Linked DNA regions of Homo sapiens. The protein of the gene in region 1 binds, or shares a complex with, the protein of each later gene. Each region holds a gene or a part of one and is shown in the gene's direction. Other genes may lie near its edges. The genes, in order: PPIH, USP39, SNRPD1 and PRPF6.

Evidence for each region.
Region 2: PPIH (region 1) and USP39 share a complex: the UniProt entries of both Homo sapiens proteins name them as parts of the U4/U6-U5 tri-snRNP complex.
Region 3: PPIH (region 1) and SNRPD1 share a complex: the UniProt entries of both Homo sapiens proteins name them as parts of the U4/U6-U5 tri-snRNP complex.
Region 4: PPIH (region 1) and PRPF6 share a complex: the UniProt entries of both Homo sapiens proteins name them as parts of the U4/U6-U5 tri-snRNP complex.

What each region holds. Positions count from the first base shown.
Region 1 is NC_000001.11:42,661,332-42,668,620, forward strand, and holds part of PPIH (peptidyl-prolyl cis-trans isomerase H), read left to right. Parts: intron 1-3,531; coding exon 3,532-3,624; intron 3,625-4,648; coding exon 4,649-4,736; intron 4,737-5,215; coding exon 5,216-5,256; intron 5,257-6,019; coding exon 6,020-6,088; 3' UTR 6,089-6,109; intron 6,110-6,715; exon of another isoform or gene 6,716-6,820; intron 6,821-7,289. UniProt on the Homo sapiens protein: PPIase that catalyzes the cis-trans isomerization of proline imidic peptide bonds in oligopeptides and may therefore assist protein folding. Participates in pre-mRNA splicing.
Region 2 is NC_000002.12:85,633,101-85,640,389, forward strand, and holds part of USP39 (ubiquitin carboxyl-terminal hydrolase 39), read left to right. Parts: intron 1-2,952; coding exon 2,953-3,030; intron 3,031-4,268; coding exon 4,269-4,336; intron 4,337-6,102; coding exon 6,103-6,291; intron 6,292-7,289.
Region 3 is NC_000018.10:21,622,093-21,629,381, forward strand, and holds part of SNRPD1 (small nuclear ribonucleoprotein Sm D1), read left to right. Parts: intron 1-632; coding exon 633-709; intron 710-1,655; coding exon 1,656-1,847; intron 1,848-6,969; coding exon 6,970-7,046; 3' UTR 7,047-7,289. UniProt on the Homo sapiens protein: Plays a role in pre-mRNA splicing as a core component of the spliceosomal U1, U2, U4 and U5 small nuclear ribonucleoproteins (snRNPs), the building blocks of the spliceosome.
Region 4 is NC_000020.11:63,977,313-63,984,420, forward strand, and holds the start of PRPF6 (pre-mRNA-processing factor 6), read left to right. Parts: upstream 1-3,819; 5' UTR 3,820-3,933; coding exon 3,934-4,004; intron 4,005-5,734; coding exon 5,735-5,903; intron 5,904-7,108. Other genes in the region: SAMD10 (sterile alpha motif domain-containing protein 10), read right to left, coding at 1-94, 933-1,032, 2,542-2,682. UniProt on the Homo sapiens protein: Involved in pre-mRNA splicing as component of the U4/U6-U5 tri-snRNP complex, one of the building blocks of the spliceosome.

The sequences.
Region 1 (7,289 bases):
CAGTGCCTGGAAAGCTGAGTTTTTCATAAGAAGTTGATTTGTGGGCAAGGAATCAGAGCAAGAGAGGTAGATAGTTCTGGAGGAATTTTGCTCTATTCACTGAGAGAGCCCAGTGAAATAGTTCTTTTTTGCTAACCATAGCTTTCTTGTAAGTAGACTGTTTTTGTCCCCCATATGAAGCCTCCCTCCCCACCCCAACCTTGGAGGGTGTGGGATAAACTACATTTTTTCTTTCTTAAACCTGCTTTTGTCCTTACCCCCCACTTCTGAATGGTCTTTCTTTACTCTTATTAATATCATTTGGTTAGTTGTGTTGCTGTTTTCTTGGATCTGGGAGACATGTGTTCTCTTTTATGTGTTTATTTAGTCTGAATCTCATGAGTTTTTAAGACCTCTTTCCTTTCCTATGCAATACAGGGTTGCAGAGTGGCAGGTTTTAGGCCGAATTACGTTTTTACCTATGTTTTGATTCATCTGCATGGTGTTGTATAACTGTGAAATGGCACAAAAAAATCCTAGTTTTTTTTTCTCTTTAAAAAATGGAAAGTGGAAGTATGCTGGGCCTGCATTTCTCACAGTGGCAGTGACAGTGACAATTGGTTGGAATCAAGGAACTGGTCCCTTTGGACATGGCATATCTTTGCCATTTCACCAGTCTCCACAACTGTTTCCCTTATTTACGTTGCCTGCTCCTGTGGGCATTTGTTTGCAGCCCCGGGAAACAGATAATGGTAGTAGGGTTTGTTAGCTGGTAAGAAGGGCTGAGAAGCTATCCTCTGCCTTCTTTCCTTTTTTTTCCCCTAGGCTTCCCTGTTGCCTTACAAGGAGAGGAATAGCTTTTTACTAGTCTTTGCCCCAGGCACATCTGATCACTTGTCGATAACTCTGGGGTTAGACAATAGTTGCTCAGTCTGAAGGCCGAGTTAAAAGCAATTGCTGGTAGGGCTCACATCTGTAATCCCAGTACCTTGGGATGCTGGGAGGATTGCTTGATCCCAGGAGTTTGAGAACAGCTTGGCAACATAGTAAGACCCTGTCTCTACAAAAATAAGAAAAGTTATTTTTTATTTTTTTATTTTTGGTGGTGTGCGCCTGTAGTCCCAGGTACTTGGTAGGCTGAGGTAGGAGGATCCCTTGAGCCCAGGAGGTCAATTCAAGGCTGCAGTGAGCCATGTTCATACCACTGCACTCCAGCCTGGGCGACAGAGCAAGACCTTGTCTAAAGGGAAAAAAAAAAAGCTTGCTTAGAACCTTCCTTGGGGAAGGCAAAATGGAATGAGCAAGAGTCAGAAAAATCAGAATTTGAGACCTTCCAAAGTTTGACCAAGAATATTTGTTTGTTCATTTATTTTTGGTTTTAATAGTATTTATTATTTTGGTTGCAAAAGAAAAGTGCAAAGAAGAAAATAAATCACCAAATGAATTACCCTCATTCTCACCTCACAATATACTATTGGCATTTTGGTTTACAGTTGTCAGTCTTACCTTAGTATGTATATGTGTGTTTATATAATTTTTAACAGACTTAAAATAATCTATATGTTTTACTTTTTTTGTACTTCATAATTGTCCATATTTTCCCTTGTCGTTATGTCTTCTAAAACATGCTTTCTAATAGCCACCTAATATTTCATTATGAATAGACAAGTTATTTGATCAATTCACTATAGTTGAAGATAAGTTGCTTTCTATTGTTTGCTCCAAATTATTAATTTTGTAATTTTCCCTATTGTTTCTGGAGAGCTATAGATAACGTGATTACGGAGAATGGCACGGTAACTGATGTGTCCCTTAGGTTCACTGGGAAATTGGAGATGAACTTGTTTTCTCTCTTCCTTCTGTATTAATATGTATGTGTAGTTAGTTAATGACATATTAGCTTATTTGATTATTTATATAGTACTATATTGTTTGTACAGTGCTTTTTACAGACACTATCTAATTGAATCTTCATGATAACTGTAAAGAGTAGGTAATTTCATCCTCACTTGATAGATGAGGAAATTGAGGCTCACAGATTGGAAGTGACTTTCCCAGCTCTAAGTGATAGATCTGGAACTCAAATTCAGATCTTTTTTTTTTTTAGATGGAGTCTCGCTCTGTCGCCCAGGCTGGGGTGCAGTGGTGCGATCTTGGCTTACTGCAACCTCCACCTCCCGGGTGGGTTCAAGCGATTCTCGTGCCTCAGCCTCCCGAGTAGCTGGGATTACAGGTACCACCACCACACGTGGCTAATTTTTGTATTTTTAGTAGAGATGGGGTCTCACCATGTTGGCCAGGCTGGTCTCAAACTCCTGACTTCAGGTGATCCACCCGCCTCAGCCTCCCAAAGTGATGGGATTACAGGTGTGAGCCACCACACCAGGCCAGGTCTTTCTAATATACAGACTTGATTTTATTTTATAATATTTAGGCAAACAAAGGTTTGAATTTGGACAGTTTTTCTTTATTCTCTGGCTTATATTAATGGTAGTTCTTTTCCAAAAAGGGACCCTTGATTCCTCACTGGGTCAGTGTTTTCCCTTTCTCCCATGTACTCTTTCTCTTTACTAACTGGCGAGGAGAGCTTGATCTTTTTGGCACTCCTCAATATTGCCTTTAAAACTCAGGGATTCTATTTAAGGCACTGCAAATATGGCCTTGGTCAAATTGTTTTATTACCCAGACTTCAGTTTCCTCACATGAAAAATGGGGAAGATGATAATGCTTATTCCTCAAGGTTGCTGGAAGAGCAAGGAGATAATGCAAATAAAGCTAGTTTAAGCAGAAATTGGGAGTTTATAATAAAGGGAGTGTTTCATGGAACTAAAGGAAGAAATAGAACTAGGAACTAGAACCATAGAGAACCAAGGCAGTTCTTTATCTCCGTTTCTCTAGTGCTCGCTACACATCTGTGTTGTGTTCTCTCTCTGTTCTCTAGCCCAGCTTGCAAATGGTAGTCACATCCAGCTTTCAGGTTTACATGTTACAAATTTAGCCTCAAAGAGAGCATCTATCCCACCTCCAGATTCCCAGAGAAGGAACTCTAGTTGGCCCAGAGTGAGTTAGGCATCCTTCCCTAGATCAATCAACTATGACCAGGAGGGTGGTATCATGTTGTACATACAGACTGCCAAGAGCTCACCCACCCTCTTAGATAGTTTAGGGGAATGGGGTGGTAGTCACTTAAGTGGGTACTTTTATGTGACTGAAGGCATGAGAGTCTTCAGGAATGGCAAGGATTGAGTATGTGATCACCTTGTTGCTGTTCCCTACTTTGTCTGCATCTTAATTGATCGTTCTAGAGGCCCAGCTGTGACCTCTTTTATCCAGTCTATAAAATGCTCCAGCCAGTCTTTGTGGGCTGTAGGTACCTTATATAAGGCTTGATCTGATTGCAGGGTGGGGTCAAATAGGTGCAGCTTCCAAGATGACCAACAAGAGTAAGAGTAGACTTTAAAGATGTCATGCTTTAGGTGCGACAGTGTTCTTCCTCCGGTTTCCAGGGACCCAACACTCCAAGTCACTAATACTTCCCTTCTCTCTGCTCAGGGAGATGGTACTGGAGTCGCCAGTATTTACCGGGGGCCATTTGCAGATGAAAATTTTAAACTTAGACACTCAGCTCCAGGCCTGCTTTCCATGGTAAGTGAGGTCCAATCAAGGTTTTGGGTTATAGCCAGCTGGTTCCTGGGCCCCTCTTGAGGCCCAGTGCTGTCTCTTGGGATGGAAGCAAATGCTTTCCTTCTCTTGCTTGGCCCAGGACTCACCTTTACCACCTCCTTTCTTAGTCTGGTTTGACTGAGAAAACCAGTAGGTATGCTGGCTCACGCCTGTAATCCCAGCACTTTGGGAGGCTGAGGCAGGTGGATAACCTGAGGTCAGCAGTTCGAGACCAGCCTGGCCAACATGGTGAAACCCCATCTCTACTAAAAATACAAAAAATTAGCCAGGTGTGGTGGTGGGTGCCTGTAATCCCATCTACTCGGGAGGCTGAGGCAGGAGAATCGCTTGAACCCAGGACGGGGAAGTTGCAGTGAGCTGAGATTGCCCCACTGCACTCCAGCCTGGGCAACAAGAGCGAAACTCCATCTTAAAACAAAGAAAAGAAAGAAAAGAAAACCAGTAGGTAAGGCCCACTAGCAGGCTAGCAGGCTGGGGAACTAAAATCTGAACCAGGATTTGTGTCTGGGCATTCAGCCCTACTGCTCAGAATGTAAACAGTTGTGCTTTCAAGACATATTCATAGCTGGGTGTGGTGGCTCACACCTGTAATCCCAGCACTTTGGGGAGGCCGAAGCAAGAGGATTGCTTGAGGTTGAGGTCAGGAGTTTGAACAATCTGGGCAACATAGTGAGACTTAGTCTCTACTTAAAAAAGAAAAAAAAAATTAGCCAGGTGTGGTGACACACACCTGTAGTCCCATCTACTAGGGAGGCTGAGGTGGGGAGGATTGCTTGAGCCCAGGAGTTTGAGGCTGCAGTGAGCCATATCCTGTTCATCTCTGTATCCTTGGATCCTAGCTTAGGCCCTGGCTCATAATAGGTGCTAAGTTAGATTTACTGAAAAAAACCATAGAGGAATCAGTGTTACAAGCTCTTTTGGAAATCTTGCCCTTCAGCTAACATGGCCGGGGAAACTTACTGCAGGTATATTTGGTTTCCATCAGGCGAACAGTGGTCCAAGTACAAATGGCTGTCAGTTCTTTATCACCTGCTCTAAGTGCGATTGGCTGGATGGGAAGCATGTGGTGTTTGGTAAGTCCTACTCCTGTCTCATGGTCCAGGCCCCATTCACCCTGGATGGAACCTCCAGAGGAGTTAGTTCTCAAACTCTTACCAAGAAAGCTCAACCTGTGTAACTGCTTAGGTGGTAATAGAGAAAACAGAAATGGTGGGGAGGTGGGGAACATGTGTGGCTAGAGAACTAGAGGGAAGGACAAAAGGACCATTTGATATAGTATGGAACCACTTAGGGAGAAAACCCAGTTGCTAGCACCAAAGAAATGCCATAGAGGCAGCATGATACGGTGAGACTTTGGAGTCACTCAGGTATAAGTTTGAGCCCTAACTCTACTTATTACCTATGACCTTGAGCAAGTCATTTCACCTCTACCGCATCTTAATTTCCTAAAGTTAGTATGAGGGTTTAATGAGAAAATAGCTAAGAATGGGCTTTGGAAGCTGGAAAATGCTATGTAAACAAGAATAAAGTCCAGCTCATGCTCTTCCTACAGGAAAAATCATCGATGGACTTCTAGTGATGAGAAAGATTGAGGTAAGTACTGCTTTGATTTTTCTGTTTCTCTGCCATTGTGGTCTGGTACTGTCTGACTAGCGTGCAGGAGCTAGAGAAGGGGGAATGAGCTCCAGTTTGTTAGGCTGTCTTCATTGCCCCAGGAAAAGGGAAGAGAACCACCTAAGTTAGCCTGTCTGGCCAACACTGAGGTTTGGCCTCTGATGATCCTGTTGCCTACTTGATAAAATTCTACTCCTCAGCATTGCGTTCAAGGTCCTTCATGATTAGTCCCTGTCTACCTCTCCATGGCCCCTTCTTCTGCCATTGCCTCTTCCATGTTCCAGTCACATCAGGCTACTAGCTCTTCTCTAAATCTGCCATGCATGTCCCTGCTGCTTGCTCTTTCCTGCCCCTGAGCCTTTGCTCACACAGTTTCCTCTAGCCGGAATGCTCTTCTTTCCTTCCCTCCTGATGGAATCCCATTCATCCTTCTAGGCACAGTTCAAATACCCCTCTTTTGTGAATCCTTCCCTGACCTCTTTAAGCCCCAATTTAGTTGCCTATCTAACCCTTATCCAATTCTCTCTTATAACTTTTTCTTATATAATCATAAGTTTGATATTTTCTAAGTGTTTTGCATTTTCTCTTTGATAGGTATTATATGCTTTACCTGTCTGCCAGGACATGGACTGTTTCTGAGTGCTGAGTCCTTAGCACAGGGCTGGCAGGCATCAGTAAAAGTTTGATAAGGGAACGAGGAAGTGCCTGAGTGGATGAATCTCCATTGTGCTTTTTTTCCTAGAATGTTCCCACAGGCCCCAACAATAAGCCCAAGCTACCTGTGGTGATCTCGCAGTGTGGGGAGATGTAGTCCAGACAAAGACTGAATCAGGTAAGTGTGTCTTTCTCCTATTAGGTTAGGAATCAGACCTCAGAGAAGGCAGCATGGTCTAGTGGAAAGAACTTTAGTCTTGAAGACATGAGATTGAGCCCAGTTCCTCCGTGTATGGCCTTGGAGTAGTCACTTTCCTTCTCTGAGCACATTTCCTCATCTGTCAAATGGAAATACTGTAATACCTATCTCTCAGAGTCACTGTAAAAATAAAAAGAGAAAGGGTTGTAGGAGCACTTTACTTTTCTATCACTTTGTAATGTACAAAGTATCAATGTGAAAACTACTCAGGCAGTTTGTAACAGCACTCTCAGACTACAGTTCCATTCAGTAGTCCCCCTAGAAAGACCTGGCTCCAGGCCTGAGTAACTCTCTGCTGGGACCAGGCCAGGCAGCCAGGAGACACACCTGTCATGCCTCTCATCAGAACTGATACTGCAATTCCAGGCCTCGACTTCATATTCGCTGGCCTCATAGGTGAATGCCTTGCATCTTCCAGCCTACATGGACTCATTTCTTACCCGTAATTACCACTGCCTGCTCTGCGCTGGGCAGCATGCTAGCTGCAGAGAGGGGGACAAAGAATTGAAAGATGTCTCCTTTCAGGAGCTCATGGAAAGTAAGACATTCCCAGAGGTGATCACTAGTAATATGAGTGACATTGCCAAGTATGAGAAGAGTACAAGGGAGAAATCCATCACTTCCAGCCAGGTGAGGGGTAGTGATGTTTTGTTTTTCTTTTTTTTTTATTTTCAAACCTGCAAAAAAGTTAGAAGATAATACCTTGAACACCAATATATCTTCACTTAGATTCACCAATGATTAACATTCTTGTTTTATTGCTTTGCCTTGACATTTGTTTTTTTCTTTCCCTTCTTGCCTCCTCACCCATTTCCATTGCCTCTCCTCCTCCCTCCTGCTCCTCTTCCCTCCCTCCATCCTTTCCTTCCTTTCTTCCCATCTTCCTTCCTTTACCCTTTCTTCTTCTCTTTCCCATTTGAAAGTTGCAGACTTCTTGACACTTTACCCCTAAGTATTTCAGCAAGGAACTCCTAAAAATAAGAACATCCTACGTAACCACAATATTATCTAATATATAGTACATTTTCAAACCTCCCCAATTGTCCCAAAAGTAACTTTTGTAGCTTAAAAAAAGGTGATCCAATCAAGGTTCCCATAT
Region 2 (7,289 bases), on another chromosome or scaffold:
AAAAAAGCTGGAGTCATTGAAGGCTTTTATTTTTTTTTGAGATAGAGTCTCACTCTGTTGCCCAAGCTGGAGTGCAGTGGTGTGATCTCGGCTCACTGCAACCTCTGTCTCCCCAGTTCAAGCTATTCTGCCGCCTCAGCCTCCCGAGTAGCTGGGACTACAGGCACCCACCACCATACCTGGCTAATTTTTTGGTATTTTTAGTAGAGACGGAGTTTCACCACGTTGGTCAGGCTGGTATCGAACTCCTCACCTCAGGTGATCCACCCGCCTCGGCCTCCCAAAGTGCTGGGATTACAGGTGTGAACCACCATGCCCGGCCTCATTGAAGGCTTTTAACAAAGATGTGACATCAGACTTATGAATTTGTTTTTAAAACATTATTCCAGCTGGGCATGGTCACTCAAACCTGTAATCCCACCACTTTGGGAGATCAAGGTGGGTGGATTGCTTGAGCCCAGGAGTTAGAGACCATCCTGCGTGACATAGACCCTATATCTACAAAAAATTTTTAAAAATTACCCAGGCATGGTGGCATGTACCTGTAGTCCAGCTACTTGAGAGGCTGAGGTTGGAGGATCGCTTGGGCCTAGGAGGTAGAGGCTTCAGTGAGCCATGTTGGTCCCACTGTACTCCAGCCTGGACAACAGAGTGAGACCTCTGTCTGTAAAATAAAAAGAAAAACATTATTCTGGCTGAGGATTGACTTAGAGGGGACGTCGAGTAGTGGCTTTTTTTTTTTTTTTTTTTTTTTTGAGACAGAGTCTCGCTCTGTTGCCCAGGCTGGAGTGCAGTGGCGGGATCTCGGCTCACTGCAAGCTCCGCCTCCCGGGTTCACGCCATTCTCCTGCCTCAGCCTCCCAAGTAGCTGGGACTACAGGCGCCCGCCACTACGCCCGGCTAATTTTTTGTATTTTTAGTAGAGACGGGGTTTCACCGTTTTAGCCGGGATGGTCTCGATCTCCTGACCTCGTGATCCGTCCGCCTCGGCCTCCCAAAGTGCTGGGATTACAGGCGTGAGCCACCACGCCCGGCCGAGTAGTGGCTTTTAAGAGTCTCTGGTACTTAAGGAGAAATAGGAGGAATCAAGGTGGTAAGGAATGGGGCCCATGGAGCACTTGTTTCAGGGTTAGTAGGAAATAAGATACACTTCGGGTTGGTTACAACATGGCCAATGAAATCTTAATCTGGGGCCAGGCGCGCTGGCTCATGCCTGTAATCCCAGCACTTTGGGAGGCCGAAGTGGGAGGATTGCTTGAGCCCAAGAGTTCAAGACCAGCTTGAGGAACATAGTGAGACTCCCTCTCGACAAAAAATGTAAAAGTTAGCCGGGCATGATGGCACACGCCTGTAGTCCCAGCTACTTGGGAAACTGAGGTGGAAGGATTCCTTGGGCCTGGGAGGCAGAGCTTGCAGTGAGCTGAAGTTGCATCACTGCACTCCAGCCTGGGTGACAGAGTGAGACGCTGTGTCGCGAAGAAAAAATCTGGGTGCCTCACCCTTCTAAACAGGTGACAGCCTGTTTGTGTGCTTTGTAGGACCATCTAATTCCCAAGAACTAGGTGGCTAGGTTATCTTGTGTTTATAGAGACATTTCTGTTTCTGGACCAACTCCCTGAGCTCCCAGGGTTTTATATTAAGGCTGCAAGAAAGGAAGAAATTTGTGTTGAGAATGATTTTTTTGTGGACCATGAATGGATGGATGAGTGTCAGCATTCACTGTGTTCCACAGGTGACTTATGGCCTGAAGGTGGATAGTGGGGCCTGTCAGCTTTTGGCAGCTTGGAAAGTTAGGGCATAATTGGGTTGTAGAGTTGCAGAAAAACCAGGGTACCCTGAGAATCAACGTGTCTAGTTTCTTCTGTCATAGCCACTATTGGCTAGGATAGTTATGATGTCACATAAACATAATTTCCTCCATCTCTGAGACCTAGTAGGTTATTAGTTGCCGAGTGTTTAGATGTGTGAAGTGTTTCTTGCTGTGGTAGTTTGTTACATAAGAGCATTCTGTGTACAGGGAATAAAAAGAAAATCATTCTATGGAGTTGTTAGAGGCCTCTGGGTTTAGGGAAATGAAGTTGAGGAAGATATACTATAGTCTTTGAGATTTTAATTGCGTGAGCAAAGAGGAACTAAATAGAAGCAAATCTTCGTTGAAGAGAAAGTAGTCATTATCTGGCTGGGCGCAGTGGCTCATGCCTGTAATCCCAGTACTTTGGGAGGCTGAGGCGGGAGGATCACTTGAGGTCAAGAGTTCGAGACCGGCCTGGCCAACATGGTGAAGCCCCGTCTCTACTAAAAATACAAAAATTAGCTGGGCATGGTAGCAGGCACCTGTAATCCCAGCTACTCAGGAGACTGAGGTGGGAGAATCGCTTGAACCCAGGAGGCGGAGGTTGCAGTGAGCTGAGATCATGCCACTGCACTCCAGCCTGGGCGACAGAGTGAGACTCTGTCTCAAAAAAAAAAGTAGCCACTATCCCTGAAATGTCTGAGTGGCAGGTTCCGTAGACAGCATTTTCATGGAATATTGTCAATCTGCTTTCAGAACCCCTTGTTCTGTATGCCTTTTCAGTCTGGGTGCTAGTCACTTTCCTAAAAGACAGGAATCTTCATGAGCTGCAGAAGGGAAGAAGGAAGTTTGAGCTCACTCTGGAGAAAAGTGGATGTTAAAAGGTCATATTCATTTGTTTTGGTCATCACTGAGTGATGCGATACAGTCCTGGTATGAATCAGAGAGCCTATGGAGAGAGTCAAGATCGGAGGAGTGAGAGCTTGACCTTGAGGAGTGCCAGCATTTAATGATAAGATAGAGGAGGATGCACGGCAGTTGGGATGGGATGGCATGGCCAGAGAGGAAGGGGGAGAACCAGGAATGCCAACCAGTGCATGGTTTAAGTTAACTCTAATGCCACTTAGCTTCAACGTTTTCCACCCTTCCTTTTTTTCCAGGAGATGGCGTTGACTTTCTGTCTTGGTTTCTGAATGCTCTGCACTCAGCTCTGGGGGGCACAAAGAAGAAAAAGAAGAGTAAGTCATTTACTTATAAAAAGGAGTTATTTTGTTCCCTTTTAAAAAACTTTGCGGTCGGTCGCAATGGCTCATGCCTATAATCCCAGCTCTTTGAGAGGCCGAGGTGGGTGGATTACCTGAGGTCAGGAGTTTGAGACCGGCCTGGCCAACATGGCGAAACCCCATCTCTACCAAAAATACAAAAGTTATTCAGGTGTGGTGGGATGTGCCTGTAGTCCCAGCGACTTGGGAGGCTGAGGCAACTTCCCATTCTTTTGTTAACTGTTTATCTGGGGTAGGCTAGTATCTATGTTATAGATAAACTACATGTTCTTTCTGAATAGGCCCCTCTCCATAGTTTTTGCTAGAATATGGTTATAGTCCCAATGATATTTTATTATATATATATTTTGAGACAGAGTCTTGCTCTGTCACCTAGGCTATGCAGTGGCACGGTCTCAGCTCACTGTAGCCTCCATCTCCCAGGTTCAAGCAGTTCTTCTCCCTCAGTCTCCCAAGGGTAGCTGGGATTACAGGCACCCACTACCACGCCCAGCTGATTTTTGTATTTTTAGTAGAGATGGGATTTCTCCATGTTGGCCAGGCTGGTCTCAAACTCCTGACCTCAGGTGATCTGCCCAAAGTGCTAGGATTATAGATGTGATGGTGTCTTGATGTGGGATTGTGGCCTGTTGCTTTTCCCACTGGATGGCCCTGCCCTCTCTACCAGGTGTCTTCAGCCTGTGTTAACCCTCTGAGCTCTCTAACTTGCGTCTTGGCAGGGTTCTAGAACTTGGTTGTGCTTTCTCTCTTGTTGCTTTGATCCTGTTCTGGCCCATCTCTTAGTCTGTCATTGTCCTCTTGTCTTCATTACAGTTTGGACATTGTCTCCCTTTGAAAGTAGCTTATGGTTATGGGAAGTTCCTTGGCTGTACCTTGTTTTGCTTGTGAATTTTTTTGTAATTCATGTATCACCATTCCTTCATTTTGAACACATTTACCTTTTCTTTTATGGACCAGGCCCTGTGATGGAGGATAAAAAGTTGTCTTAAGAGAAATAAAGTAATTATTTACACAAATAATTATAAAGGTACCCTGGTGGTATATAGTACAAAAGGAAACTTCTGTGTTTAGTGAGAGCTCTGTGTCTTTTGCTGGAAGATGCTGGTTTATTTCAGAAATTTAGAAGCTGGAAATATACTTCAGACATGTTTTCCATCCTCACGGAATTTGTCTCTTGCTTCCTGTTTGTGCAGCTATTGTGACTGATGTTTTCCAGGGGTCCATGAGGATCTTCACTAAAAAGCTTCCCCATCCTGATCTGGTGAGTTAATTGAGCCTGGGTCTTGGACTGATTCATATTGCTTGAGGGGACGTAGGGGAGATGAAGAGATGCTCAGAGAACTGACAAGCCTGCTTGCCCTGTGAAGAGGTTCAACAAAGCACCTGCCTAGTGGCAGCTCTGCCTGGTCCCTGTCATACTAGTGCACTTTTTCAGTTTGGGAGTTAGTGGTTGGATGTACTGTGCTGGTTTAAGTGTTCTGGCCACTAGGTGGTGCTGCTGTGTTTTTTCAGAAAGCTCAGCTAAGCTTTCTTTTTGTTTTTCTTAGTCTCCCTCTGTCGCCAAGGCTGGAGTTGCAGTGGCGCCATCTCAGCTCACTGCAACCTCTACCTCCTGGGTTCAAGCGATTCTCCTGCCTTAGCCTCCTGAGTGGCTGTGATTACAGGCGCTTGCCACCACGCCCAGCTAATTTTGTATTTTTAGTTGTGACGGGGCTTCACCATGTTGGTCCAGGCTGGTCTCGAACTCCTGACCTCAGGTGATCTACCTGCCTCGGCCTCCCAAAGTGCTGGGATTACAGGCGTGAGTCACCGTGCCTGGCCCTCAGCTAAGCTTCCTAGATGGTCTTAGAGCTTTTCTTTTTTGAGATGGAGTTTTGCTCTTGTTGACCAGTCTGGAGTGCAATGGCATGATCTCAGCTCACTGCAACCTCCACCTCCCAGGTTCAAACCATTCTCCTGCCTCAGCCTCCGAAGTAGCTGGGATTACAGGCATGCGCCACTATGCCTGGCTAATTTTTCTATTTTTAGTAGAGAAGAGGTTTTACCATGTTGGTCAGGATGGTCTCAAACTCCTGACCTTAGGTGATCCACCTCCCTTGGCCTCCCAAAGTGCTGGGATTACAGACATGAGCCACCGTGCTCGGCCCACTTTCTTTTTTTAATGGATTTTTTTTCCTTTTTGAGACAAGATCTCTGTCACTCAGGCTGAGTGTGGTGGCGTGATTATGGTTCACTGCAACCTCAACCTCCCTTGCTGAAGTGATCCTCCCACCTCAACCTCCCCAGAAACTGGGACCATAGATACACACCACCACACCGGGCTAATTTTTATTTTTATTTTTGTTTAATTTAATTAATTAATTAATTTATTTATTTTATTGAGACGGAGTTTCACTCTTGTTGCCCAGGCTGGAGTGCAATGGCACTATCTCGGCTCACCGCAACCTCCGCCTCCCGAGTTCAGGTGATTCTCCTGCCTCAGCCTCCCGAGTAGCTAGGATTACAGGCGCCACCACCACGCCCGGCTTATTTTGTATTTTTAGTAGAGACGGGGTTTCTCCGTGTTGGTCACGTTGGTCTTGGACTCCTGACCTCAGGTGATCTACCTGCCTCGGCCTCCCAAAGTGCTGGGATTACAGGTGTGAGCCATCATGCCCGGCCAATTTTTTTTTTTTTTTGTAGAGATGGAGTCTCACTGTGTTGCCCAGGCTGGTCTGGAAGTCCTGGACTCAAGCAGTCCTCTCACCTTTGTTCCCAAAGTGTTGAGATTACAGCCGTGAGCCATCACACTTGGCCTCAGGGCTTTTTAGATAGTCTGGTATATAAGCAAAATATCTTTAAAGAAGGAAACCTGTTGGTTCTTAAGTTAATCTAACCAGGTGGTGCATGCCAAACTGCCCAATCTCTCGGGCACTTCTCTTTGTTCTTTCAGATGAAGGAAATGTCGGCGTGGTAAAACATCGGTTCTGTGTTGGTTCCTATACCCGTCACACTCCTTTCCTCTCTTTTCTTCTCATTCATTTCTAGCCAGCAGAAGAAAAAGAGCAGTTGCTCCATAATGACGAGTACCAGGAGACAATGGTGGAGTCCACTTTTATGTACCTGACGCTGGACCTTCCTACTGCCCCCCTCTACAAGGACGAGAAGGAGCAGCTCATCATTCCCCAAGTGCCACTCTTCAACATCCTGGCTAAGTTCAATGGCATCACTGAGAAGGTAGCCCATTAACACACCTGCCCTGCCTATACTTACCCTCGCTCTCTCGACTTTTTCATTTTCTTTTTTTTTTTTTTTTCAAGACAGAGTTTTGCTCTTGTCGCCCAGGCTGGAGTGCAGTGGCGTGATTTCGGCTGACTGCAATCTCTACCTCCCAGTTTCAAGCGATTCTCCTGCCTCAGCCTTCCTAGTAGCTGGGATTACAGACATCCGCCACCATGACTGGCTAATTTTTTATATTTTTAGTAGAGACAGCATGTTGGCCAGGTTGGTCTCGAACTCTTGACCTCAAGTGATCAGCCTGCCTCGCCTCCCAAAGTGCTGGGATTACAGGCGTGGGCCACCACACCTGGCCCATTTTCATTTTATATGTAAGAATCACCACATGTATGTGACGTATTTATTATAAATTATATTGACTTTATTGAGCCTCCCAGACTCGTTGGTATTTCTCACTGGTCACCCCCAACTCTTAACTTATAGTGCCCCTTTTTATTATTTTTTGAGACAGGGTCTAGCTTTATCACCTAGTCTGGGTGATCATGGTGGCGTGATCATGGCTCACTGCAGCCTCAAACTCCTGGGCTCAAGTGATCCTCTCACCTCAGCATCCTAAGTAGCTGGGACTAGACACACTCCACCACATCCAACTAAGTATTTTTGTAGAGAGAGTGCTCACTTTGTTGCCCAGGCCATTCTTTAACTCCTGGCCTCAAGGGATCCTCCCACCTCGACCTCCCAAAGTGTTGGGATTACAGATGTGAACCACTGCCCAACCACAGTGCCCCCTCTTGTACTTCTCATATATCCTGTTTTCAGCTTTCTGCCTGCCTCTGGGGTAGTATAGAGAAAGGAAGGTCATTTAGGAGAGGAGAAACTCCAAAAAGTGGGGAGACATACTTTTTTTTTTTTTTTGAGATGGAGTCTCACTCTGTTGCCTAGGCTGGAGTGCAGTGGTGTGATCTCAGCTCACTGCAACCTCCACCTCCCGGGTTCAA
Region 3 (7,289 bases), on another chromosome or scaffold:
TAGGCATTATAATAAGCTTGTAATCTTTTTACCGACTGTAATTCTTTATTTCTTTTTTTTTTTTTGAGACGGAGTCTCGCTCTGTTGCCCAGGCTGGAGTGCAGTGGCGTGATCTCGGCTCACTGAGAGCTCTGCTTCCCAGGTTCACCCCATTCTCCTGCCTCAGCCTCCCGAGTAGCTGGGACTACAGGTGCCCGCCACCATGCCCAGCTAATTTTTTGTATTTTTTAGTAGAGACGGGGTTTCACCATGTTAGCCAGGATGATCTCGATCTCCTGACCTCGTGATCCGCCCGCCTTGGCCTCCCAAACTGCTGGAATTATAGGCGTGAGCCACCACGCCTGGCCTATTTCTTTTTCATGGTTTATAATGAGTCTAAGATCTTGTATGTCTGGATTTCAGGTTTGAGAATTAGAAACGTCCAAATGACAGTTTATGTTAGTATTGTTGTGTTCCTTCATAAAGGTTGAGGATATAATTCAGGAAAGCTGAAATTGTTATGCAGATTATTGATAGGAATTGATGCAGATAGCATCTAGCAAATTTTCAACATCGAGTTGTTTCACCCTTTCACCTTAATAAATGTGATTTTAAAGTGTTACAGGTAAAAATGGTTTTATTCCTATTTATAGATTTTTGATGAAATTGAGTCATGAAACTGTAACCATTGAATTGAAGAACGGAACACAGGTCCATGGAACAATCACAGGTACGGAGGTTGGACTGCTTTTATAACATTTTTTTTCTTCTCTTTTACCTAGCCAGAGTTTATTTTTTTATTGCTTAATGAACATTATTGTAGTACAAATCCTTATTTTTTTTGTCTGAATTATGTAATTTTTTTTTTTTTTTTTTAAACAGTTTTGCTCTGTCACCTGGGCCGGAGTGCAGTGGCACGATCTCAGCTCACTGCAACATCCGCCGCCTGGGGTCAAGCAATTCTCCTGTCTCAGCCTCCCAAGTAGCTGGGACTACAGGTGCCTGCCACCATGCCCGGGTAAATTTTTTTTTTAGACGGATTCTCACTCTGTTACCCAGGCTGGAGTGCAGTGGCACAATCTCAGGTCACTACAACCTCTGCCTCCCGGGTCCGGGTTGAAGCAATTCTCCTGCCTCAGCCTCCCAAGTAGCTGGGGTTATGGGTGCGTGCCACCACACCCAGCTAATTTTTTATATTTTTGGTAGAGACGGGGTTTCATCATGTTGGCCAGGTTGGTCTCGAACTCCTGACCTCATGATCCATCTTAACAAAAGCAGTAACAATTCTTATATACAGAGAGAAGCAGAAACAAAGGTGAGGATAGTTTGGTGGAATGGGGATTATGAGGAAGTTACAAAGACAGTGGGAGAAACATGAAAGAAATACCTGTCACATCAGTAGTGAGCCTAAAGCCCAGTCAGGGTTCTTCCATGGCTTGCTGCATTCACTTCTGTAAGCAAAACATTAGTGTGCTAGGAAAAATCTCTAGGAAGGAAACACTGCTGACATTCCCCCATTTACCAGTTGCACATGTGCTAAATTGTGTCATAGAAAACTTGCACTTTGTAGAAGAACAGTAATCTTTTGTAGTCCAGTATTTACTGTGGCTCAGTAGATTAATTAGTTGCCTTAACTTGTATCATACTAATAACTGCACAATTATTTTCCTCTTTAGGTGTGGATGTCAGCATGAATACACATCTTAAAGCTGTGAAAATGACCCTGAAGAACAGAGAACCTGTACAGCTGGAAACGCTGAGTATTCGAGGAAATAACATTCGGTATTTTATTCTACCAGACAGTTTACCTCTGGATACACTACTTGTGGATGTTGAACCTAAGGTGAAATCTAAGAAAAGGGAAGCTGGTAAGTTTGAAGGATTATAAACATTTTTGTGAATGCTAATCCTAATCCACACTATTCATAATATAGATATTATTTGCAAACAACACAAGTGTCTTTGTTGTTTAATATTTCCTATAGTATGTATAGTAATTCTTGGTGTTGCTATTAAAAACATTGAGCAACCGGACGCAGTGGCTCACGCCTATAATCCCAGCACTTTGGGAGGCCAAGGCGGGTGGATCACGAGGTCAGGAGTTCAAGACCAGCCTGGCCAACATGGTGAAGCCTCATCTCTACTAAAAATATAAAACTTAGCTGGGCATGGTGGCGGGTGCCTGTAATCCCAGCTACTCGGGAGGCTGAGGCAGGAGAATCGCTTGAACCCAGTAGGCGGAGGTTGCAGTGAGCCGAGATCTCACCACTGCACTCCAGCCTGGGTGACAGAGCCACTGTCTCAAAAAAAAAAAAAACCAAACAACAAATATCGATGTGGTCGGGCAGGGTGGCTCACACCTGTAATCCCAGCACTTTGGGAGGCCAAGGTGGGCAGATCACCTGAGGCCAGGAGTTCCAGACCAGCCTGGTCAACATGGCGAAACCCCCTCTCTACTAAAAATGCAAAAAAAATCAGGCGTGGTGGTGCGTGCCTTTAGTCCCAGTTACTCGGGAGGTTGAGGCAGACGAATCACTTGAACCTGGGAGGTGGAGGTTGCTGTGAGCCAAGATCACGCCACTGCACTCCAGCCTGGGCTACAGAGTGAGACTTTGTCTCAAAAAAAAAAAATATATATATATATATATGATTGTAATCCATAGCTTGAAAAACAATGATTTAATCTCTCTCTCGGTCCTTTATCTCATGCTGCTTTCCACTTTAAAAAAACCCCCTGTGGGTACCAAAATCTACAGATTCTTAAGTCCCTTTTCATAAAATGGTAGTAGTGTTTCAGTGCACATCCTTTTGTACCCTTTAAATCATCTCTAGATTACTTGTAATACCTAGTATAATGTAAATGCTCTGTAGATAGTTATACTGTATTGTTTAGGCGTTAATGACAAGAAAAAGTCTGTATGTGTTTAGTACAGATACAACCATCATAGGCCTAAACTACATTTTTGATCCTCAGTTGGTTAAATCCATGGATGTGCAACCCATGGATATTGAAGGCTGGCTGTATTTTCAAATCTGAGGATGTTTTGCTTTAATGTCGTTAGGGTTATTCTACATTTTTTTTTTTACTACCTACCTACCTGTCGGGGAATTGATGATTGAAAGCCCCCCGCCTCATATCATCTTACTCCACGCTTCTGAATCTTAGATTTTTCAGAAGTTATTCTTCCTTTACTAAATGTTACAGTTCCCAGTCTACTTTCTATTTAAAATTTTGTTGAAAAAAATTTTTTTTTTTTTTTTTGAGATGGAGTTTCGCTCTTGTTAGCCAAGCTGGAGTGCAGTGGCAGGATCTCAGCTCACTGCAACCTCTGCCTCCTGGGTTCAAGCGATTCTTCTGTTTCAGCCTCCCAAGTAGCTGGGATTATAGGTGTGTGCCACCACACCCAGCTAATTTTGTATTTTTAGTAGAGGTGGGGTTTCATCCTGTTGGTCAGGCTGGTCTCATACCCCTGACCTCAAGTGATCCACCCGCCTCGGCCTTCCAAAGTGCTGGGATTACAGGCAGGAACCACCGCGCCCAGCCGAAATCTTTTTTTGAGATGGACTCTCACTCTGTCGCCCAGGCTGGAGTGCAGTGGCGCGATCTCGGCTCACTGCAAGCTCCGCTTCCCGGGTTCACACCATTGTCCTGCCTCTGCCTCTCCAGTAGCTGGGACCACAGGCGCCTGCAACCACGCCCGGCTAATTTTTTGTATTTTTAGTAGAGACGGGGTTTCACCGTGTTAGCCAAGCGGTCTCGATCTCCTGACCTCATGATCCGCCTGCCTGGGCCTCCCTAAGTGCTGGGATTACAGGCGTGAGCCACGGTGCCTGGCCCAAAATCTTTTATCTACTGTGTTTTCTCTGCTTTTCTTTGTTCCTCTGGGTAGTTATCATTTTTGTTCCTTTTCTATCATAAATACTATTTCAGAAGAAATTGAAGGTAAGTGTGGTCAATTTGGCCCATTTTAACGTGTTCTAGACTTACAGTTTTTGTGTGTACACATTTAAAATAGTACGGTTTAAAATAACTGAAATTGGCCAGGTGCGGTGGCTCATGCCTGTAATCCCAGTACTTTGGGAGGCAGAGGCGGGCAGATCGCCTGAACTCGGAAGTTCGAGACCAGCCCGGGCAACATGGCATGAACTTTGTCTCTACTAAAAATACAAAAATTAACCAGGCATGGTGGCAGATGCCTGTAATCCCAGCTACTCGGGTGGCTGAGGCAGGAGAATTTCTTGAACCCAGAAAATGGAGGCTCCGGTGAGCCGAGATTACGCCACTGCACTCCAGCCTGGGTGACAGAGTAAAACCCTGTCGCCAAAAAAAAAAAAAAAAAAAAAGGAAACTACAACAAATTAAATAATGAAAATGAGTCTTCGTTTCAAGTTTGTCATAGTCTAGTGTTAGGGAGTTATTTAAAAATTATTGGTTTGGGCCAGGTGTGGTGGCTCACGCCTGTAATCCCAGCACTTTCAGAGGCTGAGGCAGCTGGATCACAAGGTCAGGAGTTCAACACCAGCCTGGCCAATGGTGAAACCCCATTTCTACTGAAAATACAAAAATTAGCCAGGTGTGGTGGCGGTCACCTATAATCCCAGCTACTCGGGAGGCTAAGGCAGGGAATTGCTCGAACCTGGGAGGCAGAGGTTGTAGTGACCCGAGATCGCACTACTGCACTCCAGCCTGGACAACAGAGAGAGACTTGGTCTCAAAAAAAAAAAAAAAATTGTTTTGTTTGTTGTTTGTTTGGTAAGAGACAAGATCTCACTGTGTTGCTCAGGCTGCAGTGAAGTGGCATGATCATAGCTCACTGCAGCCTCAAACCCCTGGCTTCAGGCTGTCTTCTGCGTTGGCCTCCCAAATGTTTGGATTTTTTTTTTTTTTGAATAAACATTTATTTTCTTTCTTTAAAAAAAAAAAAAAGAAGCAGCAGCTGGGCGCGGTGGCTCACGCCTGTAACCCCAGCACTTTGGAAGGCCGAGGCAGGTGGATCACCAGCCTGGCCAACAGAGTAAAACCCCATCTCTACTAAAAATACAAAAAAGTAGCTGGGCGTGGTGGTGGGCGCCTGCAGTCCCAGCTACTCGGGAGGCTGAGGCAGGAGAATCGCTTGAACCCGAGAGGCGGAGATTGCAGTGAGCAGTTGTTTTCTTAATTTATCTTTCTTTTTTACAGATATGCACCACCAAACCTGGCTAATTTTTTATTTTTTATTTTTTTGTAAAGACAGGGTCTCCCTATGTTGTCCAGGATAGTCTTGAACTCTTGGTCTCAAACAATCCTCCTGCTGTGGCCTCCCAAAGTGCTGGGATTATAGGTGTGAGCCACCATCATACCTGGTCCATTTTCTTTTCTTGGGTTTTTTTTTTTTTTTTTTTTTTTGAGACAGAGTCATGCTCTGTTGCCCAGGCTGGAGTGCCATGGCGCGATCTCCACTCATTACAACCTCTGCCTCCCAGGTTCAAGCAGTTCTCCTGCCTCAACCTCCCAAGTAGCTGGGATTACAGGTGCCCAGCCCTTTTGTTGTTGTTGTTGTTGTTGTTTTACAACACCCCTCCAACTCTGTTTTTCCCATTTTCTTTATTTTTTTAAACACTTCATTTTGAAATAATTTTAGACACAAAAAGTTGCAAAAATAGTACAAGGAATTCCCATACACTTTTCACCAAGATTGTCTAAATGTTAAAATGTCATATAACTACAAAAAATTAGAAATTTTACATTGATGTGTCACTACTGTATTATCTAGAGACCTTTCTCACATTTCTCTGATTGTCCCTTTAATGTCCTTTTCCTGGTCCAAGATCCAATCCAGTACAACAGGTTGCATTTACTTGTACGTTTCCTTAGTTTCCTTTAATGCGTATCAGCTGGTTCTCCTCAGTTTTCCTTTTGTGACCTTGATACTTTGTAAGAGTACGGGCCAGTTATTTTGTGAAATGTCCCTTAATTAGCATCTTAAACTTACTATTTATTGCTTAGAATGGTAAGACTAGAATCAGTGTGTACAAATTTCTAATGTGGCCAGGTGCGGTGGCTCACACCTGTAATCCCACCACTTTGGGAGGCTGAGGCTGGAGGATTGCTTTGGCCCAAGAGTTTGAGAGCAGCTTGGGCAACAAAGGGAGACCTCATCTCTACAAAAATTTTAAAAATTAGCCAGACATGATGGTTTGTACCTGTAGTCCCAGCTACTCAGGAGGCTTAGATGGGAGGATCACTTGAGCCCAGGAGTTCAAGGCTGCAGTGAGGTGTAATTACACTCCAGATGGGACTACAGAGTGAGACCCTGTATTTAAAAAACAAAAACAAAAACATTTAGAATGTGACTGACTTCTATGTCAAGATTTTCTAATATTCTTAGCTGTCTGAAGATGAAATAAGTTTATTTGGGTCATGAATTCCCTATCACCATGATACTCAACTAGAGTTAGGATGACCCAGTAGGGATATTACTATTTGGATTAAAGCACTAGATTATGTGTAGGTCAAATGAGTTTTAATTTTCTGAAGAGTTAATAAGATTGTGATTTGATGTAATACATTTAAACTTTCCTGGTTTTGAATTAACTTGCTTGGATTTTATTCAGTTACCAAAACTCTGGCATCAAGGTGATCATGTTTTATTCTGTGATATATATCTTCCCTTTTTTTGTGAGGTTCAAATCATTTTATGGTGAATTTGAGACATGATATAAAGAAAAAGTATTTTTAAATTTGACACATTTCTTAGTAAATAAATTGAAATGAAACAAATAATAATCTCCCTAGGCCTTTAGTTATTGGTTCTGCATGATAATGTGTTGGGGGGTGGAGGGAATCTGAAGTCTAACACATTTAACAGAAGCTAGTTAAACTTTATTTACTGTAGCTACTAATAAAGAGCTATAAACAGGGAAAGGTGTGTGTGTAAATGTTGTTTGTGGTGTCTAGGTAACATTGGTGCAGGAGAGAATTGAACTTGGTTTGTTTTTCTTTTCCTTCAGTTGCAGGAAGAGGCAGAGGAAGAGGAAGAGGAAGAGGACGTGGCCGTGGCAGAGGAAGAGGGGGTCCTAGGCGATAATGTCTCTCAAGATTTCAAAGTCATATGAGATTTGGGATATTTTTTGTACAGGTTGTGTTTGTTTATGTCAGTTTTTAATAAACATAAATGTGGGACAGAGCTGTCTATTTAGTATATCAAAGTTTTAGTAGTTTCCTCCACATTCACGAAATTACCACAGTGAGAGCTAAGCATTTCTACTGGGCAGTTTCATTTTTAGTTGATCAGGTTTTAAGTTTTTGAACTAAAATTTTTCTTTTTCTT
Region 4 (7,108 bases), on another chromosome or scaffold:
CTGGTGCCAGGTGTCCGAGGCAAGTGGCAGGGGATGCTCTCAGCTGACACCGTGTGCTCCAGGAGGGTCCGGCAGAAGCTGAAGTGGGCAGTGGCTGTGTGTGGGGGTGCCTGGTCAGGGCAGTCAAGGGCAGAACCAGAGGCTTCCTCTACTTGAGAGCTAGCTCCCTGCCCCATCTCCTCCACACTAGTGCGGGAAATCACCTCCCCAATGAGGGGTTCCCAAGCCTCCAAAGGCAGAAGGAAGTGTGCAGGACCTGTTTCGAGGACCTCACCCAGCACAAAAAGAGAAGAACTGGAAACACCTTTCATCTTGCAAGTCTACAGCCCTCACCCAGGGGAGCAGGATGGATTCTTAGATCAGAGGATGTGCCCTCTAGGGAAGGGAACCTGAGACATATGACAAGAGGAGCTATCCTGGGACAGCCCTGACCTCACCCTTGCCTTGGGCTGGCCCACAAGTCTTGCACACACCACACCAGACCAGGAAGTGCACACACGGCCTGCTTTGAGGAAAGGCAGATCCCGAGTCCGGGGAGGTCGTCTGTGCTGGGGAAACCGGGCTGAGGATGCTGCTTGCCCATCGCCACTGAAGGCACCCAGTTCACACAGCCCTATCTGGTGTTGGGGCCCGACTCACTGACTATGACTCATTGACAGCCTGAACTGTGGGCCAACTGACAAGCAGGGCTCACTCCGCAAACACGCGCTGGGCTCTCCAGCTGTGCCGCCCCCCACAGGGCCTGCAGCCCGGGACAACACCGGCCATGTGAATGGTGGGTACCCATTGGATATGGGCGGGTCAGCACAGGTATGTGGGGTGCAGCCATTGCTTGGGGACCCACGGTGATGCTCTGTGCTCCCTCTTCCCACAGTAACTGCATTAAAGTGTTTCATCTGAGCTTTGTCATCATCTCTGGGGGCACTGCTGACCTGAGTCTGGGGAGGCAGGCGTCTTGATCCAGGTCTGGTTACAGAGGGGCACCCCACATTCATTGTCAATGAATGAATGAATGAAGGCTCTGTATGGTATCTGCAAGTGAACAGAGCCTGTGGGGAGACAGAAGGTGGGCACAGGCCTGCCCCTGTCTTTACAGCACCCTAGCACCCAGGCCTTCAGCAGGGCAGGTGAGGTTCCCACGCTAGGGCCCTCATCCCATCCACCCTAGAGTGAGAGACCCTCCCGGCCTCAGACTCAGCCACCCACTCCACACCCAGGGCAGGGGTTGGGGATGTGTCTAGGAGGTCTAAGTATCGGTGAAAACCACATCCTACTTCCCCGTCCTCCCACGCCTGTAAGACTTAGGAGACATAACACCTTCCGCCCCCATTCTTGCAACTTTCAGGAACCGGACCCCTGGGTGACTCCAAATTTGAGGTCTGGGGTCAGCAGAGGGTGTGCTCAGTGGGCCACCGCCCCGAGGTGGCCCCTAGTGCTGTGGGAAAAGGCTTATTCTAAGCCCGCGCCTTCCAGCGGACAGGCGCCGTGGTCGCCGGGCTTTGCAGGGCCTCGAGCGGCGGGGCTGGTGCAGAAGCGCGCGGCAGTCCGGGGAAACCCGTCGGACTCCTCAGCCCGCACGGCACCTGCCCCGGCCAAGCAGGCTCCGCCCATTTCCTGCCTGCACTCCCGGAGGGAGTTCCGTCCGTCCCGCGGTCTGTCGGTCCGGTCCCTCCCGCCCCAACGTCAGGATTCCAGAAGGAAATGGGGCGGGGGCACCGAGGCGGGATGTGACCTCGGCCCCCTTTCGGCCCCACTGCAAAAGCGGGGGAGGGTTTTCCCCGTGCGCAGGAAAAGGTGACCCGAGCGTAGTGCCAGCCTGGACACAGGCGCCCCGGCTTGACACCCCCTCACCCCAAGCCAAGGGCGCGCTGACCCCCAAGGCCTGAGGCTGGCTGCCCCCTAAAGCAGGACAAAGGCTACGGGACCCCGTTGAGCCGAGACATCCGCCGAATACCCCCAGCCACCGCCGCTCGAAGCCCGCCGGGTCCCGCCCCGCCCCCGTGCCTCTGGGTCCCTGAGACCCCCGCCCGAGAAATCCCCGCTCCCCAATCCAGCCCCGCTCACCGTCCACATCCCGGCGCTCCCCGAAGCCCGCGCGCACGGCCCCGGCGCGGCCACGCGGGGGGCTCAGCTTGGACCTCAGCTCGGTGAACATGGGGCCCGCGGGTGCCAGGCCCGCGCACACGCCCCTCGCCGAGTGCAGGGCGGCCGGTGTGGCCGGCGGGGAACGCGCGCCGCCGCCCCGCCCCGCCCCAGCCGGCCCCGCGCCCGAGCCGGTCCCCGCGGCCCGCGAGTGTGCGCGACGAGGCACCTGCCGCCGAGCCCTGTGTGCCGGGCGCGCTCCGGGAGCTCCGAGGTGTGTCGGCGGCGCGCGGGCCTGCGTGCACCAAGGCTGTCCGCCAGGGCGAGGGGCGTCCGTGCGCCCCTGGGCACGGCTCCGCGGAGGAGAGTCCCCGTGAACCTGCCGGGCGTCCTCTGAGGTCGGGCCCCTCTGTGCGTGGGGGTGGGCTGAGGGGCATCTCACAGGGGTCTTCTACCTACCGGGGCCAGGACAAGGGGCAGGTCAACGCCTCCCACACACTTTCCTCGGTCTCCTACGTCTTTACTCGCCTTCAAATAGGCACCCGCTTCCCCGGAGAAACCAGCTTGACTCTTGCTTACCGCCCACCCCACTGTGAACATCAGGGTGGTTCTCCCTTCCCTCTGCAGCCCCAGAACCTGGCTCAGTGCCCGGGGGAGAGGGGGCGGTACAGTGCTCTGTAACTGAAAGGGGCTTGGCTTGCCTGGAGATGGGGCAGAGGGGAACTCCAAGGAGGCTGTAGCAGGCCGGAGCGGTGTGTTTGCTCCAGGACTCCAGTGAGAAGTGCTGAGATGGGGCTGGGCTAGGGAACTGTGGTTGCCTGGTGCAGCAGCAGGCCAGGCTTGCAACCAGCTATTCGGCTTGCTCTGCCCAGGAGCCTGGGTGCTCTCCCTGGGTGTATGTAGGGGCTCTGGAGGATGTCTTACAGCAGGAGGACCAGAGATGCACACAGACATGTAGAAATGCATGCACAGAGTACAGTCATGCACTTGCACCCAAAACACGAGCACACGTGACCTCTGTGCACACACCCCACTAATCACACACACAGAATTCACCCACATGCTTGACAGCCATGTTCATGTACTGACGTGTTCCCGACAGCTCAGCTGCGGTTATTTATTTCGTCAATTAGCTCTCCAGGAGCTAAGGATGTGGCCCTCACCAGAATGTCCAAGGCATGTTGGCGGGCGTGGGTGGGGTCTCTAGTCCCACTGGAGGGACAGATGCCTGAATGGGGGTTCAAGAATATGAGTGCTAAAAGCGTAGGGCAGCAGTGTGCGCACAGGACGCACACAGACAGGTGTGCCCATAACCAGTACACACAAGCTCTACACAACTGGACAGGGTACAGCTCTGCTCGGACAGGGCGCACCAGGGGCGAGGGCGGGCAGCTGGGCTGGTTCAGAGGGAGGGGGCCATGGGTTCAGAGGGAGGGGACCATGGGTCCCACTCTCACAGACAGGTCTCCGGACTGCATCAGAGCACTCGGGAAGCAGCAATGCCCCAGGCTGTTTTTAGCCCCCAGGGGCCAGTTAGGGTCCCAGTGCAAGCTCGACCTAGCTTCTTCCGCCTCTCCACGAGGAGGCGCTCCCGCGCACGCGCCTACCACGTTCCTGCCCCCTAGCCGCGGCCGGAAGTCGTCGAACCAGGACGTCGGGACTTCCGCCCAGGGAATCAAAAGTGGGCGGGGCGTGTGCGGACTGAGCGCTCTGCTTCCGGGGCGCGGGTGACGCGACGACGGCGACACTTTGCTACGGAGTGCATCGGACGTCGAAGCCTAGAGTCTCTGCGTCTTTCCCTCTTCCGCTGCCTCATTCCTTTCCTTCCTAGCCTTGGTCGTCGCCGCCACCATGAACAAGAAGAAGAAACCGTTCCTAGGGATGCCCGCGCCCCTCGGCTACGTGCCGGGGCTGGGCCGGGGGTGAGGCCTGGGGCGGCGCGCGAGGGGCGGGGACCCGGCTACAGGAGCGCAGTGCTTTGGGGCGTGTTTGGGGGCGGGGGTCTATGGCCGCGCAGTCTGAAAGACGCTTGGTGGATCGGCTTAATCCCTGCAGGAAGCAACGGGCTTTGGGGTCAGGACATACCTGTGTGTGCACCCTGCTTGCCGCCTAGATGTGACACATTGACTCTCAGCCCAGTGTTTTGGTCTGTAAGATGGGTAATGCTGTATACGGTCTGCAGTGAGGAGTAGAGGAATCTGACGTGTAGTGGAAACACGCGACCACCTTCCTCAGGTCGGGCTGACACTCCCCCCCCCCGCCCGCCCGCCCGCCCCGCCTTAAGCGTGCCTGGGTCCTCTATGCCTGCAACACAGATGACCACCGTGCGTTGCTGGATAAGTGAGCAGTCGTTATTATCCTATTTGGCTATTCATTTGATGAGGAACACTACTGGGTTTTTCTTGGTGGTGGTATTATATTGGAATCTGTGGGGCACACACAAGCTCACTAAGGAGGGTTTGCTATTACCATAAATAAGTACGTAAAGAGGACCAGATTTAGAACCCAGTGCTTAATGGAGAGTAGCATTGGAGCCAAGTTTAGTAAGAGAGCTGGACTTAGGGCTGTAGAAACGGTGACGATAGAAGAGAAACTGACATTCTGCGTGTGGGAGTTCAAAAAAAGTGAGGCAAGGAGGAAGCCCAGGGAACAGGAGGGAGTCCAGTGTGAGTGGAATGTACAGCGAATAGAATAGAGCTCAGGAGGTTGGAGGGGCCTTGAGCGTCAGGCTAGAGCTCCTGGAGACGTTAGAAAGATCATGACCCTTCAGAATTATTATTATTATTATTATTTTTTGAGACAAAGTCTTGTTCTGTCGCCCAAGCTGGAGTGCAATGGTGCGATCTCAGCTCCCTGCAATCTCTGCCCCCCGGGTTCAAGCAGTTCTCTGCCTCAGCCTCCTGAGTAGCTGGGATTATAGGTGCCCGCTACCACGCCCGGCTAATTTTTGTATTTTTAGTAGAGACAGGGTTTCACCATGTTGGCCAGGGGGGTCTTGAACTCCTGACCTCATGATCCACCCGCCTCCGTCTCCCAAAGTGCTGGGATTACAGGCGTGAGCCACCACGCCCGGCCCAGAATTTTTTACTCAGAGCTGTGTTTTGGGAAGAATCATCTGGCAGAGCATGGGTTGAAGTAGAGGAAGGCTAAAGGCAGGGAGAGGTAACTTGGTTTCCAGCTGTGATGGGAGTCATAGTCTGGGAAGGAGGGATTTTGAAAGTGGATTCATTAGTACTTGGGGACAGACAGGATGGGGAAAGTGGGAGAGGGAGGCAAAAATTACATCATGGTCCCGTGGCATCTGGGACAGCTGTTATCAGCTGAAACCCCCCAGAGCAGCTGTAAGGTGGGCACGGAAGAGCTCAGTGTGGGCCAAGTTGGGTTTAAGGGCCTGGTTGGATGTGGAGGGGGAGATGATCGAAGCCTTAGGGTGGAGAGAGATTGCCTTGGTAACATCATCAGGGTAGGCTGAAACTTTCAGGTAAGCAGAGAAGATCAGAAGTGTTTGAGACTGCAGTTCATTGTCACCAGGATCTTTGGAGGTTTCCCAAAGGTGTTAGAAAAAGAGGTGTTAGTAAGTGATAACCAGGAGTGGAGAAGAGCACAGGAACAGAGTTATTCAGACACCCGGTGTCTTGGGGGTCTCCTGCAGCGCCACTGGCTTCACCACGCGGTCAGACATTGGGCCCGCCCGTGATGCAAATGACCCTGTGGATGATCGCCATGCACCCCCAGGCAAGAGAACCGTTGGGGACCAGATGAAGAAAAATCAGGCTGCTGACGATGACGACGAGGATCTAAATGACACCAATTACGATGAGGTGAGATGTGTCCGGCTTTCGTGGCTCCTCCAGCCAGTCTCTGGGAGCAGCTGACCTAACCAGTGTGTGTTGGTGTCTGTAATGAATGGCTTGGAGTGGCTCATGCATTTAAATTTTAGCTATTCATGGAACATCTTTACTGAGAGTGAGAGGGAGCAGGAAAAACACGGAGAAATGTGCACTTTTTGTCCCTCAGAAGAGATGTTCTTGCAGGTGTTAGGACCACTGCCTTGGCATTTTCTATTGCCCAGTCTTTTTTTTTTTTGAGACGGAATTTCGCTCTTGTCGGAAGAGATGTTCTTGCAGGTGTTAGGACCACTGCCTTGGCATTTCCTATTGGCCAGTCTTTTTTTTTTGAGATGGAATTTCGCTCTTGTCGGAAGAGATGTTCTTGCAGGTGTTAGGACCACTGCCTTGGCATTTCCTATTGGCCAGTCTTTTTTTTTTTTTTTTTTTGAGACGGACTTTCGCTCTTGTTGGCCAGGCTGGAGTGCAGTGGTGTGATCTCAGCTCACTGTGACCTCTGCCTCCCCATTTCAAGCGATTCTCCTGCCTCAGTCTCCAAGTAACTGGGATTACAGGCATGCGCCACCATGCCTGGCTAATTTTGTATTTTTAGTAGAGACAGGGTTTCTCCATGTTGGTCAGGCTGGTCTCGAACTCCTGACTTCAGGTTGTCCGCACGCTTCGGCTTCCCAAAGTGTTGGGATTACAGGCGTGAGCCACTGCGCCTGGCTGCCAGTCTTTAATGATAAAAACTTAAAGTGGAATTGGTGATAGTATTTGCTTTTTTTAGCTTTAGTGATTGCCCTCTAAACAGACATCTAAAGAAAAACTTCAGCTGACTGAATACCGATTAACTGTCTTCTAACAGATGACATTTTTCCTCTGAGGAAAATTTTTAAAAATAATTTTAGTTTTGAGGCCAGGTGCGGTAGCTCACACCTATAATCCTGGCACTTTTGGAGGCCGAGGTGGGCGGATCATGAGGCCAGGATATCGAGACCATCCTGTTTAACATGGTGAAACCCCGTCTCTACTAAAACTACACAAAAATTAGCCGGGCATGGTGGCATGTGCCTGTAGTCCCAGCTACTCGGGAGGCTGAGGCAGAAGAATGCTGTGAACCCGGGAGGCGGAGGTTGCGGTGAGCCAAGATTGCGCCACTGCACTCCAGCCTTGGCGAGAGTGCGAGACTCTGTCTC